Regions from separate parts of the Homo sapiens genome. Here region 2 is reported to be linked to region 1. Evidence: microRNA targets listed by miRTarBase, many of them from high-throughput screens and not tested one by one. Region 1 holds a microRNA gene; the other region holds the end of a gene's coding sequence.

Region 1 (5,597 bases):
TAGCTCTGGCGGGACCCACAAGGAGTTCCGCCTCTGGGACGGTCAGTCCAAGGTCTATGTATTCCTTCTCACTGGGGCCAGGGAGGAGGGGGCCAGGCCGGGAGCAGAGAGAAAGGGGCCGTGGCCTCATTTCCATGCGGAGGCCCCAGGCCCTGTGCTATCCCCACCCTATTGTGCGCCTGGGCGGGCTGACAATCGAGGTCTTTGTGGTCGGTTGCTGCACTCCCACCCTCAGCGCTCAGGCAGGCGGGGTCCCTGCCACCCGCTACAAAGGGTGAGGAGGAGCAAGACCAGGAGAGGCCCTCCCTCTCCCCACCAGGCACGGGGCCCCACGACTGGCCTCGTCCAGACCCAAGCCCAGGGGACAGGTGTGGAGGGAGCACCTGCAGATGGAGTCTCCCTGCTCCCTGCACCTTGCCTCTGAGTTTGTGCGTGGGGCCAGTTGCCATGTTTGCACTCCCACCCCCTAGTCCTGGGGATCAAGCTGCCTGGCAGTGTCCCTGGAGCTCCTGGGGGTGGAAGAGGGCCCCTGCTAGGTGGGATGGGCCTTCGGGGGCCCCTGCTCCTCATGGCACCAAGCATCTGCCCACCTCTGGAGGTTAAGCCTGGCGTGGGAGGAATGGGAGGCCCCCTTACCCACAGGGGAGATGTTTGGGGTCACAGTCACAGATGCTGGGTGGGAGGGGGACCCAGGCCTTGCTGCAGAGCCAGACAGAAGTCTCCGCCATCCCTGGGTGAGGCACTGGGTGGGGGCCTCTGAGCTCCTTTGACCACCCCAGCTGGAACTGGGAAGCTGTGGGCCACTGGGAGGCAAGGGTCCCCACCCCCTCTGCCACCCACATCTGTACTGTGGGCACCTCCATCTGGCCTTCCACATCCTCCCCACCTCCGCATGCTGCAGGGGCTGGGTGGGGGGTGGTCTGCAGCAGACTCCAAAGGAGGCGAGGGTCAAGGGTCAAGAGGTGGTGAGCCAGCTGTTCCCAGATGTGGGCCGCGGCCTTTCCTCTTTCTGGAGGAATGACAGGCCTCCCGCAGAGGAGGAGCGGGTGGTGACGAGGGAGAAGGAGCGGAAAGGGAGGGGTTCTCCACGGGTTCTGTTGATTTGTTTAATCCCACGCTATTCGGAGGCTTTCACGGATGGCGGACAAGAGGGAGGGGGAGGGGGTGGGGGTCTCGGCCCGTGTTTCCTCCCCTCCTCCCGCTCCCGCCCCCGCCGGAGCCACCTGACCCGTAGCGAAGTTGCCGGCCCCGCTGCGCGCCGGCCTTTGTGCGCACCGAGGCGGCCGCCGGGAACCGGGAGCCCGAGCTGGCCCGGCAGCGCCGCCGCCCCCACCTTCGCGCCCCTTTTCACTCCCCCACTGTCCCCGGAGCTGGCAAATAAACAAATCCACAAACAAATTATCCGTGTGCTCCGGAGAGGCGGCGGCGTGGGCGGCGGCGGAGAGAAGGCGCCGGGCAAGGCGAGACTAGGCCCCCGCGGAGCGGGGGAAGCACAGACCCCAGCCCGGGCCCGGCAGCAGTAAGTTGACTTTTATGAAACCTACGAAGCTCGCGGGGCCACCGAAAAGGTCCCCACCGGAGCGGACTCTGCGGGGCGGGCGGGGCAGAGGCTGCAGGCGGGCTCCCCTTCCCGCGCGGCTCCTACCGGCCGGCTCCGCCCCCAAGCCCTGGACGGCCCTTCCCCCAGCCCGCCTGGCTGGGGGCCGCTGCACACCGGGGGTGGAAGTGGGGAGCCGGGGACCCCGATCGCTACTCAGGACTCCAAGAGGGGCCGGGTTCTTCTAGGGATGTACAAAAATCTAGGGTGACCCAAGGGAAGGGGGCGACCCCCAGCCTTCCACCTTACCCACCCCGGCCTGCCAGAGAGCCCTCCGCCAAAGGTAAAGTGGGAAGGACGAAGGTGCTCCGCCAGGTGAGGGAACAGGTCTGCCAGGGGCGGCGATCCACCCTGCCCCAGGTGGAGCCGGTCCTGTACGGAAAAGAGACCCAAAGAAAGATTTGGGGTCCCCGAAGCCAAGGTACCGATGGGGGGTGCTAAGGAGTCTTTCCCCTTAGAATGGGAACAAGCTCCAAGGAGCTGGAATCCCGAGGCGTCCTGGACCCGTCCAGGAAGCTAAGGGTGGGGGACGGGAGGGGAGGGGGCCGGGAGCCGGCCTCCCTGGCCCCAACCCTTGGTGAGAAGAGGGCTGGGGGTATAAAGTCCGAAAGTGAGGCGGAGGTTTCAGGGTTCCGTTTCAACACCATGGACAGCGGATGCCTCAGACTGGGAGCCTAGGACCGCCCTGGGGACTGCCCCCGTTTCATTAGGGTGAGGGTCCGATTCCGACCACTGGAGGCCAAGGGCAACTGTCTCCAATGAAGCGGGGCTGCTGCAGCCTGGCCTCCCCAGCCCTCCAGCCCCTCCAGCGTCCGGCTTGCACCTGCTGAGGCTGCCGGCACCCGCAGGCTTGGGGCAGCTTCCAGAGCTTTGCGCTTGGAACAGAAGGTTCCCCTTGGGCTGTGGAGGAGTAGAGGGCTTGTGCGTGACCTGTGAGAAAGAAAGATTGTCCCTGACACTTGCGAAGGGCGAGGAATTGCGGCTGGGAAGGGTCAGGTTGAAGCCGCACCAAAGGGGGAGGGGCGTCCTGATGGTTGAGGACCGGCGGAGTCGGTGCGGGCAGAACCAACCCGAGTTCCTGCCGCCCTTCCTAACCGGCTGTCCATGGGCTGGGCAGTGCTGGAGAGGGTGGAAAAGGAAGGAAGCAGGACCTGCTCCCAGGGAGGCCCAGGCTCTGCTCCGAGGGCAGATGGCGCAGGGGCTGGGTTGGCCCTAGGAGGAAGGAGATGGGGACAGAGGCCTGCCGGCCGCGCCGGCCTGCGCTCCTTGCAGTCTAAACAAAGGCCAGCGGGGGAGGCTCCGGACGGTGAGGCTTGGGGAAGCCACTGATCCCTGGCCCTAGAGGGCCAGATCGGGGGCGCCCCAAGGACCCTATCGAGCTGGCAGTGACTGCAGTCGGGCCGTGGAGTGTCGCCTGTGATTCCGTGGTCCCTACGGGCAAGAGCTCCCATCCCGGTCTGAAACTGTGAGAACCGCAAGCTCCGATGGGGGCGGGGAAGGACGACCTTTAATTCCCACCCCACTGTACGGAGCCCAGCAGGGCCATCCGCAGGAGGCCGGCGGGACCCTTGCCTTTCTCAGGACTGAGAGGCTTGGAGGACCGCGGTGTGAGCTGCGCGGCAGAGTGCGTTCTGCAGGCGCCAGACAGGAGACGCGAACCCGCGGTCAGGGCCCGAGTGCGGGTGCGTGTCTGCGGGTGCCGCTGGGCTGCGTGCCGGCGAGGCGTGCGCGTGGCGAGGCGTGCGCGTGGCGGGGTGTGGCTAGAGGTGTCAATGTGCAGCTGGAGGGGCTGCGCGCGTGGGTGCAGGAGGGCCATGTGAGGGGCTGGAGTGTGTGGGAGACAGGCGTTTCCTTGGGTCTCCGTGTGGCCGCCGGGCGCAGGGCACGGTCGAGGGCGCTCGATGGCTGAGTCCGCGTGAGCCGAGGAGCGCGCGGGGCGGGACGCGGTGCGAATGCGCGGGAGGCACGAGGCGCGCAGTGCGTGTGTGCGCGTGTGCGCGGCGCGCGTGCCCCGCAGTTCTCAAGGACACCTCGGGGAGGCAGCGGCGGGGCCGGTGTCCGGGTGACGTCACCGCGCGCCCCAGTGATAATCGGCCGGTGCCGGAGCGGAGCGCGGATACGCGCGGAGGCAACGGCGACGGCGGCGGCGGCGGCGGGCGCGGGGACAGTTGCATCGGGGCCGGGCCGGGCTAGCAGGAGCTGGGCGCCTGCAGCGTGGACCCCGTGGACACTCGGCTCGCAGCCGGCCTGCGGCGCTCGGGGACTTGCCTGGCTCCCTTCTCGGGGTTCCCGCGCCCTTCTCCGCCCAGGGCAGCAGCGCGCGGGGCCCCCGGGAGCCGAAGAGCAGGCGGGAACTGGCGGCGGCGCGGGAGGCGCAGGGAGCGGAGGCGGCAGCAGCGGCTCCCGCCGGGACTGGTAATTACGCTCGGGGCCGGGCCGGGGCGAGCCGGGCAAGCGGCCTCTCTGGGTCTCCCCGTCTTTCTCTCCACGAACAGCTCGAGCGCCTTCTCGCGGGCCCGCTGCGCGCGGAGAGGACGAGCTCGCTGGGTTGTAAAAAGAGACGAGTTTTCATCTTTGAGCATCGAGATTCGTTCTTTTAACCGCATTCGGTGCGCGCTCCTGGGTCGGCACGGGCAGGGCGACGGCAGGGGAAGGCAGCTGCGGAGGAGCTCGCGCCGCCCAGTCGGAGCGGTTCTGCGCCCCTCGGAGCCCCGCGGGAGGCGGCCGGGTGCGCACGCGCTCACCACCCCCACCCCCGGAATCCGTCTTCGCGATTCCCGGGCGCCCCAGCTCCAGGAACGCCCGGAGGGACGCACTTGGGGGCCCACTCTCTGCCGCGGAAAGGGGAGAAGTGTGGGCTCCTCCGAGTCGGGGGCGGACTGGGACAGCACAGTCGGCTGAGCGCAGCGCCCCCGCCCTGCCCGCCACGCGGCGAAGACGCCTGAGCGTTCGCGCCCCTCGGGCGAGGACCCCACGCAAGCCCGAGCCGGTCCCGACCCTGGCCCCGACGCTCGCCGCCCGCCCCAGCCCTGAGGGCCCCTCTGCGTGTTCACAGCGGACCTTGATTTAATGTCTATACAATTAAGGCACGCGGTGAATGCCAAGAGAGGCGCCTCCGCCGCTCCTTTCTCATGGAAATGGCCCGCGAGCCCGTCCGGCCCAGCGCCCCTCCCGCGGGAGGAAGGCGAGCCCGGCCCCCGGCGGCCATTCGCGCCGCGGACAAATCCGGCGAACAATGCGCCCGCCCAGAGTGCGGCCCAGCTGCCGGGCCGGGGATCTGGCCGCGGGACACAAAGGGGCCCGCACGCCTCTGGCGTCGCGGGGCGGGTGGGGGCGGCCGAGGGCGGCCGAGGGGGGAGCCTGCGGCCGGGGCCAGGCTGCGGCCAGCCGGCCCCCGGCCACGTGTGTCCGCAGCGCGGAGCGCCCAGGCGCCCGCAGAGGGCGGCGGGGCCCGGGAGACAAAGGGAGGGTCCACGGGGAGCGGCGGGCGGGTGCGTGGGGCGGCGGGCTAGGGTGCGGCGCTGTCCGCGGTGCTGGCGGCGGGGCGGCCCCCGCGGGACGGGAGGGCGGCCAAGTGCGGCCCTCGCCCCCACAGCGGGCGCCCTGGACAGTTGCCACGGCAACGTGGGAGGAGGTGGGGCAGGGTCTGAGGTCACCGCTAAGTCTGCCCTTCCTCGGGCCGCTGCGCCGCGGGGCGGGGCGGAGGCGGCGCTCGCTGTGGCCCCAGAGCAGCCCCCGCAGCCCAGGACCAGGCTTGCATGGGGACGGGGGTCTGCGTCCGCGTCCAGGGTCCAAACGAGGGCGGTGGACACGCCGGACCGCATCCCGCCCCCAAAGCCGGCTCTGGGCTGTGCAGGACCAGGCACGTGAGACTCCGCAGCCCAGGGAGAAAATGACAAATCCCTCCCCCGCCGCCATCTGCAGCCGCAGTGACACCCACTCGGGTTTGCTGCAGGGGTTTTTTTTCTGTCCCCGGAAGCCAGCGCCACCTGCTGACGCC
Region 2 (4,111 bases), not on the chromosome of region 1:
CCCTTGTGCTGCCCCCCCCAGTACTTCATCCTGCTCCTCATCATCTTTCTGCTGGAGATCATCGCTGGTATCCTCGCCTACGCCTACTACCAGCAGGTGAGGGGCCTGGGCAGGCCATTCAGAGACACAGACATGCACAGGCGGGGCGGACACACACACATGCACACGCGTGGCTAGCCCCAACCCCCACCCCCATGGTCCCAGAGCTAACCAATGTGCCACTGGGCCCTGGAGATGGGGTCTAGGTCTCTGCAGGGGCACATGGGGTCAGGCAGGTGTCCAGGGGATCCAGAAGCTCTCTCTGCCTCTGCCGCACTTCATTGTCACCCTGGTGACGGTCCTGGCACCACCCAACCTCCCCTCATGCCGAGGTGTGACCTCAGCCCTTCCCTGTGGCTCTGAGCTGGGCCCCGGGCCTCCCCACCGGCCATCCTGGGGCTCTGCCAGCCCCACCTTGGAAGGTCTTAGACTGAGGCTGAAGTTTCCTGCACCCCAACCCCAGCTGAACACGGAGCTCAAGGAGAACCTGAAGGACACCATGACCAAGCGCTACCACCAGCCGGGCCATGAGGCTGTGACCAGCGCTGTGGACCAGCTGCAGCAGGAGGTGGGTGGGTGGTGCTGGGAGGGCGCGTGCATCCCCAGGGCCTCCCTGGACCTCTGCAGGAGCCTCTGGCCCCAGGTCTCAACCCCAGCCTTGTTCTTGATGCAGTTCCACTGCTGTGGCAGCAACAACTCACAGGACTGGCGAGACAGTGAGTGGATCCGCTCACAGGAGGCCGGTGGCCGTGTGGTCCCAGACAGCTGCTGCAAGACGGTGGTGGCTCTTTGTGGGCAGCGAGACCATGCCTCCAACATCTACAAGGTGGAGGTGGGTGTGCAGCGGGATCATGCCTCCAGTGTCTACGAGGTGGTGGGGGGGCACCCCAGTGACTGGCTGTGGGCAGTGGGACACGCCTCCAATATCTACCAGGAGGTGGGGGGTCACCCCAGTGGCCGGATGTGGGCAGTGAGACCACACCTCCAATATCTACGAGGAAGTGGGTGGGCAGCCCAGTGGCTGGCTGAGCTGTTGGTGGCCTGGCTGCCTAGGTGCTAGGGGTGGGTTTGGCCACACCCTGGAGGCTGGAGGCAGTAGGGGCCAGTGGGAGGTGCCCCCTGGGCCCGCCTTCAACACCCATCCGCGCCCCGCAGGGCGGCTGCATCACCAAGTTGGAGACCTTCATCCAGGAGCACCTGAGGGTCATTGGGGCTGTGGGGATCGGCATTGCCTGTGTGCAGGTGAGGGCACATGGGGGTGGCGGTCATCTTGTTGGGGACACGGGGCAGGGCGGTGGCTGGTGGCCCCATGACGTCTGCTTACGCCCACCCGGCTCTGCACACAGGTCTTTGGCATGATCTTCACGTGCTGCCTGTACAGGAGTCTCAAGCTGGAGCACTACTGACCCTGCCTTGGGCCTTGCTGCTGCTGCACCCAACTACTGAGCTGAGACCACTGAGTACCAGGGGCTGGGCTCCCTGATGACACCCACCCTGTGCCATCACCATAACCTCTGGGGACCCCAACCTCAGAGGCAGCTTCAAGTGCCTTTTGCTGCGCACCAATGCCCAGCAGGGGAGGTGAGGGGGGCTGGCGGGGCGAAGTTTGGGGGGTGTTTTGTGGGGCTCCCCAGACACACTCTCTGCCTGGTGGTCAGATGCAGGTTGGAAGGGGCCTTGCTGAGTGGCGCAAGGCCGAGCGTTCCCAGCAGGGGGAGAAACCCTTCACACCCCAGGCCCTTCAGGAACTGGGGCCTTGCCTTGCAGCCACATGGCCCCATCCCAGTTGGGGAAGCCAGGTGAGCTCTGACCCTTGGGCCTGGGCCTCTGCCCCTCCCAACCCAGCCCTCGTCTCCCTCGACAGCGCCCCTGCTGTCTTCCCCACCGCAGTCACCACCACCCGAAATGCCACGTGGTCACTGTGCACTGCCCTGTTCATGTGCCTCTGCGGGGCAGGGCCTTCCTGGTTTTGTTCACTGCTGTACCCAGATGCCTACAACCATCCCTGCCACATACAGGTGCTCAATAAACACTTGTAGAGCAGATGGACGAGCTCGCTGTGCTGGTAACAGATGGTGGTCTGTTCTCAGGGCCCTCGCATCCAGCAGGGCAGACAGACCCACCCCCGCCCCGCCCAGTGTCAGGACAAAGAAGGGCAGAGCCAGGAGGACACACCCCCCATGGGGCTCCAGGGAAGGGAGGTCTGATGCCAGGGACAGCTGAGCACAGGCCTCAGCAGAAAGAACTGAACATGTTCCTAAATGGTGAGATGGTGTGTTCAGAGCCCCTGGGGGAGAGGAAAAATGGTTTCCAAAACCCTTCTGGCCATGGTGGGGAGCAGACGTGGGAAGGGTGCAGACTGGGGGCCGTGCCCAGGTAAGAGGTGTCAGGCAGGTGGGGTGGGGGCAGTAGGGTGAGGGGGTTTACATGGAGGAGCCTATAGGCCCTGCTGGGGGCCAGAGGGTAGGAGGTACCAGAGCCTGGTGTCTGGCAGAGGTACCCTGGAGATGGGAGCCAGGGCTCGGTCACTGATTGTGCCCCCCACTGCCCAGGTTCCTGTCCTTAAGGCTCAGAACTGTAGACCCTCAGGCAGACCCGTTCTCCCCTACCAGAGGACACCACGCCAGATATCTGGGCAGCAGGGACATCTGACCTGGGGTGCTTGCTGGCAGCACTGCCTGGACAGCAGGGCCTCCTTAGGGCCACCTCCCAACCCAGCTAGGAGCGTCTTAAGGCCTGCCCTCCCTGCTGGGCTTGGGTGGGACGCTCAGGGACAGGCAGCAGTGGGCAGAGGCCAGCAGGTACTGGCAGCCCTGACCACAGCAGAGACTGGGCCCCAGAAAATCTGTTTCTCTCTTCTTTTTCATAGTTGTGTTGAGACAGAGTCTTACTCTGTTGCCCAGGCTGGAGTGCAGTGGTGCAAACACAGTTCACTGCAGTGGCAACCTCCCAGGTTCCAGTGATCCTCCTGCCTCAGCCCCGAGTGGCCGGGACTACAGGTGTGAACACTGTGCCCAGCTAATTTATTAAATTTTGTTGTAGAGATGGGGTCTCATTATGATGCCCAGGCGGGTCTTGAATTTCTGGACTCAAGTGATCCTCCTGCCTTGGCCTCCCAAAGTCCTGGGATTATAGGGGTGAGCCCCTTTGCCCGGCCTAAATCTGGCTCTTCAGATTCCGAGAGAGAGGGTACAGGAGCCTCTCTGCTCAGCCTGAAGAACACCCAGAAGGAGGGAACCTCAAAGAGCCCCGAGATGGAAGGCTCTCCTGGCAGCGCCTCCTGCAGGGGTGCCTGTGGAACAGGCTGGCCCCAGGGCTAGGAGAGTTCATGGCCCAGTCTGCTTCACTGGGCTGCCACAGTGTGAAAGCTGGGCCTAGACCTGGCTCCTGACATCCTAGTGAGGGCTGGGACCTTAGTGGTTCTGAAAGACCTTTACTGGATGGTTCCTTCCAGAGTGGGGTATCGGATACACACACACTGCGGCCAGGCATTACGCCAGCTCCCGGATGCCTCAGCCTCGTGAATTCGGGGCAGGACGCTCAGGGCCCATGGTCAGCACAGCGGGTGGGTGGGTTCCAGCGTGGTCACTTCTCCAGGGGTGCATAATTGAGCAGCTTCTCGATCAGGTCCACGTGGGCCAGCAGCATCCGGCGGCAGCAGTAGCGCTTCAGGCCCAGGGCATCCAGCGCATCCCTGTGTCGAGGGGAGGAGCAGAGGCCAACTGAGTTCTCTACGGTCTGCAAAGGCCTGGAGCCCACATCCAACCTGCCTCTCACTGCCTGCTGGCCTCACCCCCCCCGCCACCGGCAAGGCGAACAGATTCACCCGGCTCAGAAGCTGAGATCTAGCAGTATGATCCTGGCTGGAGTAACCTGGAAATGCCCAGAACCCTGGGTGGAGCGTGAGGAGCCTCCTCTCCCACCTACTCTGGCTGTACGTGTGTGTGTATAACGTATGTAAGAAATGTAAATGAAATGAAAACGAAGTAATTGCGGGGAGCTTAGAAAACCAAGACCACCAAGGTGCTGATGTGCAGCCACCTCATCCAGCACTGGCCACGGCAGGGTAGCT

The links. The annotated mature microRNA hsa-miR-124-3p reads UAAGGCACGCGGUGAAUGCCAA and lies in region 1 at 4,680-4,701, shown strand. An mRNA with a match to its seed (bases 2 to 7 or 8) in the 3' UTR can be bound and repressed. Matches are read on the target gene's strand: a 7mer-m8 pairs with bases 2 to 8, a 7mer-A1 pairs with bases 2 to 7 and ends in A, and an 8mer does both.
Region 2: the mRNA of CD151 is a reported target of hsa-miR-124-3p. Seed matches in the 3' UTR shown: 7mer-m8 at 1,585-1,591.

The regions. Positions count from the first base shown.
Region 1 is chr20:63,173,873-63,179,469 of GRCh38, forward strand. MIR124-3 (microRNA 124-3) reads left to right here and starts at 4,628; the gene lies at 4,628-4,714. RefSeq lists enhancers at 400-974, 3,875-4,835 and a silencer at 5,123-5,412.
Region 2 is chr11:836,748-840,858 of GRCh38, forward strand. CD151 (CD151 molecule (Raph blood group)) reads left to right here. Exons shown (of 9, transcript NM_004357.5): 5 at 22-96; 6 at 503-607; 7 at 713-871; 8 at 1,195-1,281; 9 at 1,386-2,084. The coding sequence ends at 1,445. POLR2L (RNA polymerase II, I and III subunit L) reads right to left here. Exons shown (of 2, transcript NM_021128.5): 2 at 2,974-3,733. The coding sequence ends at 3,625. Among named protein-coding and RNA genes, the nearest start is that of POLR2L, 3.7 kb to the right of the region's middle. RefSeq lists enhancers at 1,239-2,213, 4,041-4,111 and a silencer at 3,266-3,315.